2 separate regions of the Homo sapiens genome follow, and region 1 is linked to region 2. The links come from fine-mapping of genetic effects on gene expression. Tissue or cell type: tibial artery. Region 2 holds a variant in brackets; the other region holds the start of a gene. All regions are shown on one strand. Distances are between the middles of the regions.

The links. PIP is the estimated chance that this variant, and not a neighbour inherited with it, causes the effect.
Region 1: it holds the start of CAV3, and the variant in region 2 is the best candidate, but not a certain one, in a credible set for the expression of CAV3 in tibial artery (GTEx, PIP 0.51).

Annotation. Positions count from the first base shown.
Region 1 is chr3:8,731,004-8,736,377 of GRCh38, forward strand. CAV3 (caveolin 3) reads left to right here and starts at 2,799. Exons shown (of 2, transcript NM_033337.3): 1 at 2,799-2,987. The coding sequence starts at 2,874.
Region 2 is chr3:8,708,753-8,714,126 of GRCh38, forward strand. No RefSeq gene overlaps it. Among named protein-coding and RNA genes, the nearest start is that of CAV3, 22 kb to the right of the region's middle. The variant C/G (reference allele first, on the strand shown) is at 2,780.

The DNA of each region.
Region 1 (5,374 bases), 22 kb after region 2:
AGTTGCTATTGCCATTAGCGCTCATTGATCCAGTGACTATGGTTGTGAAACAAGCTCCCCCAAATTCCAGTGACATAAAAAAATGATTATGATCATGAACTGTGTGGTTTAGATATTCAAACAGGACACAGAGAAGACAGTTTCTCTGTTTCATGGTGTCTGAGGCTTCAGCTGGAAGACAGGAAGGTTGGGGATGACTTGAAGACTGGCGACTGGGAACATCCAAAACTTTGTTCACCCTCATGCCTGATGCTGATGTTGGTTGACAGCTGGAGCCTCAGCTCCTCTCTATGTGGTTTTCCCACATAGGCTGGTGTGGACTTCCTCCCAGCGTGGTGACTGAGGTCCAAGAGCAAGAATCCTGAGAGGAGAGAGCCAGGAAGCCAGCCAGGGAGGGAACACAGACCCTCCCTCTTGGTGGAAGGAGTGTCAATCTCATCATCTTTGGAAAAGATGGCCTTCCATAATCATTATTACTATGTCGTTATTATTACTTCCCCTTTAGGATGATGAGTTCTTCTAGGTGGCTCTTCCATCCCTGGCGACAAGACTGCCATTAGCTGGCCCACCTTTCACCAGACATATCTGGTTCTACGGTGCACAAAGCTTAAGCTCAGGCTTAGATCCCTGCCACGTCCCTTGTGAATACAAGCAGCAATGTTCTTTTTTTTTGTTACAATCTCTTTGCAGAATATTCATGTACCTGGGACCAGGGGGACCTGGGGACCCAGGCAAGGGAATGGAAAAGCAACAAAAAAAGTTACCTCTTAATCCTAAGCGACTTAGGGACAGTTTTCTGGTTGCCCACCATTTATCCCTAGTAACACTGTGGGGGTGCCGAAAATGTGCTCAAGCTAAAAAACCTACAGTTCCATCATCGTTTGCCAAGACAGGAGTGACCAATGAGATATAAACAGAAGTAGTTGGGTTGGACTTCTAACAAAGCTTTATAACAGAGCCGACTCAGTTCGCAGATGTCGTTTCTTGTCCCTGCCCCTTCCTCTTTCTTCTTATCCAGACTCAGAGATGATGATTGGAGGAGCAGTAGACATCTTGTGCCTATGAGGTGGCTTTCGGGCTAGCAGAACAGAAGGATGGGAGTCCAGATGTCTGAAGACATCATGGAGCCACTATAATATTTCTGAACTACTTGTGTTAAGTGAGAAAAAAAGTTCCTACCTTATTCAAGTCACTATTACTTTTGCATCCTTTGTGTTACTAGCCAGGTGTAATTATTGATAAAGCCTAAATCACCTCTGGTTTTCCCCCTCCTACCTCAAACTTCACCCAGCTCCAATCCACCCTCCACCTGGCCACCAGGGAGCTTCCTCACACACAAATCTGATACCGACCCTGTCCTGCTTTGAAGCCTTCAATGGCTTTCCAGCACCCCTAGACAAAATCCACATTCTTTAGTATGACATTTGGGATGCTGCACACCCAGGCCTGAGCTGAGCTGTATCTCCTGCCTCAACCCCAGACACCCTGTGCTCCAGCCACTCCACACTTTTCAACATTCCTGTCTATACCACTCCTCAATATCCACAATCCTGTAACTTGAAGTGTTCTAGGTGCTGAGCTCCTGCTTGTCATTCGATACCTATCTGCAAAGCCACCTCCCACAGGAAGTCTTCCCCGGTGTCCTCAGAGTAAGTTACTGACTCCTATGGACTTCTAAGACCAGCTCTTTGTAAAATATCTCTGATCTGTGGCACTTACCGCACAGTATTATAATCACTTATTGTTTTAATTAGTCTCCCCACCTTGACTGGGAGCACTTCAAGGCGGACAGAGCCTTGTTGGTCTGTTTATCCCCAGCTATTAGCAAATCCTGAATGAAGGAGTGAATAGACAGGTAAATGGAAGCACAGACCCTGACCCCTGAGGATTCAGAGTTGCCATCCTTCATGCTGCTGGAGCCCAGGGGAAGGCTGAGTTAGAAGAGGGCACAGAAAAACCGAGCAGGTATCTAAGAGAGGTGCACCCCACTGATGCATGTGGAGTGTCTGGGACCCAAGAAAATCCTGGAAGCTGTCACTAGGGCAGGGTGAAGGGTAGCACGAACATGGACTTCATGTTCCCCCCACCGGGCATATCCCAGTGCAGGCTCCAGACGGCAGACGAGGGGCAGCCCCACAGCAGCTTCCTCTCCCTGTTTCATCCCCAGCCTGGCCCCACACCACAGTCCATCAACTCCTGCTCCAGGTGGAAACCTCAGAAACCCACAAAGCTCGGACCTGCTCCAGGTCACCAAGCAGCAGGGCCAGGCACTGGCAATCCAACGAGAAGCCCCACTACATCGCATTCCAGCTCCTGAAGCCATTCCCTGGGTAGGAGAGCCCTGATTGTTATTATCATCTCTCCATTTTACAGATGGGGACAGAGTGGCCTAGAGAGGTGAAGTGTGCCAAAGGTCACACAGCCAGCCAGAGGCAGAGGAGGGACTAACCCCACTTCCCTCCACGGGCAGTGCACCCCAAAGGAGCCAAAATGCTGACAGCAGTGGGGCAAATTCCAGGGGCCCCGGAGCGACCGCCGAGTTGGCCACAGCCACACGATGCATAGGAAACGCTAGGCCCTCTGCACCCTCTCCTGAGGCCCAGTGCCCTGAGGCAGCCCCCTTTAAGGAGCGATCGGCCTTCCAGAAGAGCTCCAGTCTTAATTTTAGCTTGGAGGCCTGCCACAGGAGGCTTTAGAGAGAGGCAGGCTGAAGTTATGTGGGACAGCTGTCAGCCGGCATGCTGGGTGGGGCCTATTTAGCTGGCAGGGACATAAGTCTGGGGACACTGAATTGGTCTCTCTGCCCCAAGTATTTTCAGCCCCAGCCGGCCACACAGCTCGGATCTCCTCCTGTGGATCCCCCCAGCTCTGCGATGATGGCAGAAGAGCACACAGATCTCGAGGCCCAGATCGTCAAGGATATCCACTGCAAGGAGATTGACCTGGTGAACCGAGACCCCAAGAACATTAACGAGGACATAGTCAAGGTAGGCTCTGCAGGCCTGCCTCGGCGGGCGGAGAGTGTCAGGTTTGCGAGACGTGGGCGCTTGGCAGGGGAGGGTATCTGCTGCAGACACAGTTTCCCTGAAAAGAGACTTGTTGCTCTGTTGTCTCTGTATCACCCCCCCAACCCCACCCCACCCCCAAAAAAAGGCTTCTAAATCACCGAAGGATCTTTAGCAAAATCAAGAGCAAAAAATTAGCCTCATCTCCATGACCTAAGTGCTAATCAGGGCAGGAGGAGCGAGTCACAAAGAAAATCCCTCCTTACTACTGTGACGCTCCTGCCACTCACTCCTGGCTCTCACCCTGGGAGGAACAGGAACGGGCGGCCAAGTTGGGCTCCTTTCTGTGCCAAGGGGCATTTCTGCGGTCTCTCCAGTGGGTGCAGGGTTAATCCCCAGAGGGCAGCTTCCAGCAGGGCCGGCAGCCCCTCGAGGTACACTCACTCCCCCAGAGCACTGCCCAATATCTGTCCCCAAGGCCGAGGGCCATGCCCAGCCCTCCCCTAGCTACCCCCTCACCCCAGGTCTAGTGGCCAGGACAGGGCAGACGGCACCCGGGACCCTCGAAGAGAAAGCTCGGGGTTGTCTAGCCCTCAGGGAGTCTCTCAGCGTCTGAAGTTGGGCCTCTTCCCTCGCCTCCTGGTGACACTAGCGGCCCTGCTGCCTCCAGGCCCACACCTTCAATCCAACTTCCAGCCAGTACCCAGAGGGATCTTTCTTTTTTCTTTTTGAGACAGTCTCTCTCTGTCCCCAAGGCTGGAGTGCAGTCGCACACTCACGCCTCACTGCAGCCTCAACCTCCCAGGCTCAAGTGATTCTCCCTCCTCCACCTCCTGATTAGCTGGGACCACAGGCGAGTGCCACCATGCCCAGCTAATTTTTGTATTTTTAGTAGAGACTGGGTTTCATTATGTTGACCAAGCTGGTATCAAACTCTTGGGCTCAAGTGATCCTCCTGCCTCCCAAAGTGCTGGGATTACAGGTGCAAGACTCCACAACTGGCTCAGAGGTACCTTTCTAAAGCAGAATTCCTCCAAGAAGGGTCCCCAGCCACCAGCATCTGAGTCACTGGAGGGGCTGTTAAGAGGCCAGTGTCTGAGGCCTCTCAGATCCTACTGAAAGCATTGGAATCTCAGGCCAGTGCTGTCCAATAGGGATACTGTTACCACAAGGAATTTAAAATTTTCTAGCAGCCACATTTTAAAATGCGAAAGCAAACAGGTGAAATTAATGTTCCTGATATTTCTTACTTAACCCTATATATCTAAAATAGTATTATTTCAACATGTAAGCAATATAAAACAATTATCAATGAGCTATTGTACAGTCTTCAAGTTTGAAATCCAGTGTGCTTCCTATACCCACAGTATATTTCAGTTCAGACCCCACATTTTCATCCGAAATGCTTGTTCTGCATTTAGATTTCATAAAATGTACATGTGAAAATCGATTCGCATGCCTGTACTGTTTCAAACATTCTGCAAAAATTTTTCAATAATGAAATCGGGGTTTACATTTTAATTAAAGTTAAACAAAATCTAGAATTCTTCAGTTTCACTAGCCACATTTCAAGCGCTCAAAGCTCCTGGCCACTGGATCAGACAGGCCTGTATTGCGGTCTTTCAGTGGGGCACCTCCCATGCTGGAGAAGCCTAGCCTCTCCACGTGGCTGTCCAAACCCAACACAATCTGGCCCCAACCTGCTTCTTCTGCCTGGTTGGCTCCCACCTGCCAGCCCACCCACCAGAGTACATTCCTGTGCCATTGCCAGAAGTGCCTGTCCTCTCTTCTCCAGGTGGTGAATGCCTCACTCAGCCTTCAAGGCCCAACTCAAATGCAACCTCCTCCAGAAAGCCTTCCCTGACTCCTCCAGGCAATTAGTTGCTCCCACTTCTGTCCCCCTGCTTCACTCAGGGCATTCCTCCACCACAGCTCTTCTTATACTGGATATTATATTTCTATACATCGTTAGTGATGGAGATAGAGTATACAGTATAGCACAGTGTGAAAGCTGAAATGAGGAAAATTAGGAAACAAATTTCACAAACTGTAAAGCACTATATACATGTAAATAAAATTGTACCTGTAAAATATTATTAGTTATGGTTTCCATCAGTGTCATCTAGCAGGAATAGTCCTGGACTTGACTTTAATAGACTTGATTTCAAATCCAGTCCATTTTACCTAAAAATGATAACACTGGACAAACCAACTAGGTTTTCTGAGACTCAGTTTCCCCTGTAAAGTGGGAATAATATCATTTCCCAATTTACCTCCACCAGGTAAACGAATCTCAAAGCAGCACTGTGCGTTAGAAATATAGCATGAGGATTGAATGAGATGAAGGGTTTGAAAGTGTCTATCACAGT
Region 2 (5,374 bases):
TGTGACCTGCAGGGTCAGGGCAGCTGCCCAGGGAGCCTGAGGTCAGGTGTGGAGGGAGACTTCTGGCCCATGCTCAGCATGCCTCTCACTGTCTTCAAACCCAGTTTCCCAACAGGCCCTGCACCCCACACCCAACTCCTTTTTTCGTCAACAGAAGACCCAGGCTTTCAGCACCCAGAGATTGTGCAGAGGAAGAGAGAGAGAGAGACACCACTGGTGCCCCCACCTTGGGACGTGCCTAAAGATCATGCGGTAGCCCCTACCCCCACCCCCAGGTTTCTGGTTTATAAAGGACCTCCATGTCTTCAATCTCCCCTGAGACTCACAAGAGTCCTGAGAAAAGGTAAAATGAAGACTCATTTGAGAAAGAAAATTAGGCCCAGCGAGGTAAACCACCCTCCCCAGTGCTGAACAGGCTATAAGACGCAGACAGCAAGACCAAAATCCAGGCAGGATGACTCCGAAGTCCACGCTCTGTTGGCTGAATAGGAAGAAGCTGAGCTGCCTCCCACAAAGCCCAACTCCCCTTGAAACTTTCTTAACAAGAAGACGTTTTGATTCGCCAGAAATCTCCCAAGGGAAAGCATACTTGCTGTCTGGACCAAAGCTTTTCAAACTTGAGCATCAGTCAGAATCCCCTGCAGGACATTAAAACAGATGCCAGTCCCCATTGCAGAGCTCCCAAGTCAGTAGGTCTGGGGTGAGGCCTGAGAACTTGCATGTCTGACCGGCTTCCAGGAGATGCTCATGCTGCTGGTCTGGGGACCACACTTTGAGAAGGCCTGGTTGGAAAGTCTTGATAAATGCTTGATGTTAAAGTTGTACTTGGGGCAGAAGGGAAGAAATGATTCCACGTGGAAACCAAGGAGGAAATGCATCCTTCTGCTCCCCAAAGGGAAGTAAAATGAGAAAAGAGGATCGAGCAGATGGGAGGAAGGCATGGGTTTGGCGAAGTAACCCCTTCAGCGACTCCACCAACAACTTCCATGACAGTAATTAGGGTGATGAGTACTCAGTGCTAGTGAGTTGGTGGTGTGCAAATTGAGGTGACGGATTGGGTGTCATGTGGGGATAGGCTGGGACAGACAGTCCACAATGGCCAGATGAGTGGGCTGGCCATCTGGATTTCAGCCAGAAATTAGCAGAAGGGCTTTGGATGTGTTGACTATGGTGTCAGGGGACTGAGGACATGTCATGCACCTCCTGTGGGCAGGGAGGCCCATGAACCGAGGAAGCAGGTGGCCATCTGTGGCAGCTGTCACAGCCCAGCATAAAGCTAAGCACTTCTACTTATTATATCATTCAAAAGCTGCCTCAGCCTGCAAGGTGGGAGAGGGGCCTGGGGTGGGGAGGTGAGGTTGCTGAACTTCCGCCAGCTCCCTGAACCACAGTGGCTGTCATGCCACCACCGGAGATGAATTCTAGGGAAGGCTTTGGCGTCTTTCAGGATCCTCTGTTCAAATGTCCTTCGTAAGTCCATTTACCCATTAGTTCCACAAATATTTACAGAGCCTCTACCAGGGGCCAGGTGATGTCACACCTTTAAATGGTCATGAGCTAATGCTTTAGAAGGTTTAAATTGGCAATCGGCCTGTCTTATTTTAATTTAGAATGATCAACAGAGTAAAGAAGCAGGGAGCTGAATTACAGGTCTGGTGAGCTGAGACTTTAATGCTATTTGTTAGCAGCTGGTGTTGTTATTACTGTTAGGAGGGCTTGTCACAGAGGACGGCATGGTTCAGAGTTGTCTGTAAAATCTGAGACTCTGGAAAGCCAGAGTCCTTTTGTCAAGAGTCAAGTCTAAGGATGGAAGGTGTGAGTATCAGGGGTGTGAGAGTAGGGTGCTAGGCAGTAGAGAGCACAGGAAAGATGGGGGCTTGGGTGGCCTGGGTGCTCCAGGCTTCTGAAAATTCTCACTCTGACAAGAGCTCCAGAGAAGTGTGTGAAGGACAAATCCCTGCTCATCCTTGTTCTAGGACTCTAAAGGGATAGTTCCTCTGGAAACCTATCCAAGGAATTCATTCCCAGATCCCCAGAGACCTCCATCCTAAGGAACGCACATTACAGTCTGTTGGGAAGTAGTTCTGTTCTCTATGTCTGATTGTGCTTCAAAGTTTTCAAAAGTCCAAATGGTGGGGGAAGTAGGTGAGAAAGACACGTTTAACATATAACCCTGGAGCGAGGAGCAGTGGATTTTGAGTCATCGGCCCAAGTTAGAATTTGGCCTCTGCCACTTCGGAGCTATGTAAACTCAGCAACATTATTTCCCCTGTTAAGCCTCATTTTCCTCTCTTCTGAGAGAGATGCTAACACCTACATCCCAGCCTCTGAGAGGCTACAGAGAGCAGTGATTGCAGGCCTGACTGCTGGGATTCAGATCCTCACTCTGCCATGTGCAAGCTGTGTGACTTTTGCAAGTTACCTAACCTCCCTGAGCCTCAGTTTCCTCATCTGTAAAATAAGGTTAATAATCATAGCTATCAGACAGGAGTACCATGAGGATTAAATAAGATGTAAAGCACCTAGAACAACTTTTGGCATTTAGCAAGTGCTATGTAAGTGCTTATTTATTTAAAAGATAGTCAAATGGGATACTTAACTGTCAAACCCATCACCTGCCATTACCTCTGTAAGGGAAGGCTAGAGATTTTTGGAGGGAATTTGCTCCGGTAGCAAGTACCACAGCATTTCCCTATGGGTGCGAGAAGAGGGGGTCGTTCCTCTGCCTCCCAAGCCAAGTGAGGGGAAGCCCAGGATAACTATTTGGGTAGGCTGGTGG[C/G]GAGGGCTTGCAGGATGAGGACGTAGCCGTCCTCTCCCTTGCCGGATTTCTACTGAGCTGCAGATTCCCAAAGGCCACCCCAAGTGTCAACAAAGTTCATGGAGTTCTTGATGGTGCCTAATATTAGTGTCCAGGAATTGGGGGGGTGGGGGTGGGGCATGGGGTCATGCAAGGTAAGCCTAAGGCTGGTGGCTGGCAGGAGCCGCCTACAACGGCAGAGCCAGGAGAGCAGCCTGCTAGTGTGACGTGCCCAATGCTAGGGGCTAAATTGCATCTCCCCCAAATTCTTATGTTGAAGCCCTAACTCTCAGTGTGACTGTGTTTGAATTAAAGCCACAAAATTGGGAATCTGATCCAATAGAATTCGTGTCTTTATAAGAGGCACCTGAGAGCTCACTTGCTCTCCCTGCCACCTGAGGATACAATGAGAAGGTGGTTGTTTGCAAGCCAGGAATGGAGCCCTCACCTTAAACCACCTGGCCAGCTCCTGGATAATCTTGGCCCTTCAGCCTCCAGCACAGTGAGAAATAGAATTTCTGTTGTTTAAGCCCATGCAGTCTAGGGTATTTTGTTATGGCAGCCTGAGCAGACTAAGACACCCAGGGTATGTGCCTATTCCCAGGCACCAGTACTCTGTGGAGGGCAGCCTGCCAGACTCTGGGAGTCCCAGGGGTGTGTAGCCTGGGCCAGGACCAACAATTAGACCAAGAGTGCATTTGGGGAGGGTTGGACAGAGGTCCTTATAGAGCATTCTCCAAGGGGAGCTTGGGTTGGGGTGTCAGCCATTTGTCCACCCACAAAGAGCAGTCCCAGACAGCACTGGCTGTGTGAAAACATCTTTCGGCCTCTTCCAGGACGCCATGGCAGAAAAAAAAAAAAAAAAGAAGCTGCAACTTGAATGATGAGACCACAGCCCTCCCCGCTTCAGTTCCCAGCAGGGGCAGCCTCACCTGAGGAGAGGAGATTGCTTGGTGCTGAAAATGAAATTAAATTAAAGTTGTAATGGGCTGGGCTTTCTTTCTTTTTTTTTTAATTGAAGTGTGACACTTTGCTGTCCAAAGCGTGATCTGAAATGGAGCATCGCCAGAGAGCCTGGAAGAAATGCAGTCTCAGGCCCTACCATCTGCATTTTAACAAGAACCTCTGGTGAGTCACAAGCCCACAAACGTTTGAGAAGTGCTGGTGTAACACATGAACAGCTGCAGAAATGCCCACATACGGACACACCCAAGCAGCTGGCACCCAGATATTTACCATACCTCCACCTCCCCAGGCAGCCCCTGGGGGCCCTTCCTGCTGGATGCCCTATGGTGGGTTTTCTTAATTAAGCCTGAAATTGAGTCTGTTCCAATTCTCCAACGAGAACCGAAGGCTGGAGGCTCAGCCCAGAAGGTCAACAAGGGGTGGAGAGGAGCTTGAAGCCATGGTGGGAGAGAAAACAAAGCCAAATCAGAGCCCAGCTCCTGCAGAAACCACTGTCTCTTCTCTCTAGCTCTATGGGCTTTCACTGTACCCCCTCCCTTCTGGCCTGTTGTCCTGGTTGATCTTCACAGCCACTTTAACTCCAGATTCATAAAAATGCAAATAGTGGAGCCTCCCACAGTAGCCAAGCCTGGGGCTGGTGGTGGCTGCTACAGCCACAGCTGCTCCATCAGGCAGCTTCCGTTTTTCCATTGCAGATGAAAATGCGCTATTTCCTTTACATAACTTGTAATATCTTGAGTTTGCCACTCACACCTGTACAATCAGGCAGCTAAAACTTATCTGGTTGTGGTGCTACTTCTCTGAGATTCCTCCCAGCTGATTCCTTAGCACCTCAAAGATGCTGGCACATTCTCAGCAAGAAATGGGTCTCCTCCATCCCCAGCTACCTCGCTGGGTGCCATTGGGTGAGTCTCCAGGGCTGCTTCTGTTGTTGATGGTCTGTCCTGGAGCATGGGACTCCCAAGAATCAGGCCAGGGATACAGGCTTCCATCGTCTAAAACAGGGTTTCTCCATTTCTGCACCACTGACTGTGGGACTGGATAATCCTTTGTTGTGGGGGGCTGTCTTGTGCAGAATAGAATGTCCAGCAGCATCCCAGCCTCTATTTACCAGATATCAGGAGCACCTCTATGACAATCAAGTGTCTCCAGCCTTTGCCAAATGTCCCCAGATTGCTCCTGGTTGAGATCCACTGTTCTAAATGCATGGTCAATGCCCTGTGTGCTGGGCTGCCAGAGGGAACTGGGATGGCCTGGTGGCAGGGTTGCCCAGGAAGAAATAATCCAAGTTCCCAAGTCAACAGTGAGGATATATTCCAACAGGTCTACTGTCACAAGGAGAGGACAAAAGTACCAACGGAGCATTTAAAGGGGAATCAGTGGCCAGGTCTTAGAATAGAGAGTTTCTTAATTTGGGTATCCCAGGAGGAGACCTTCAGACAAGGGTTCCAGAAAAAGTAGCTTATATGAAAGGCGCAAGGAAGACTGAGAGGGGGTAGGGAACTGATATAGGAAAATAAAGGTTGATCAAGCTAACCGCCCCTGGAGGTGACTGGCCTGTGACCCTGCTGGGGGCCTCTAGGCGGCAGTGTCAAGCACATGCCTCAGACT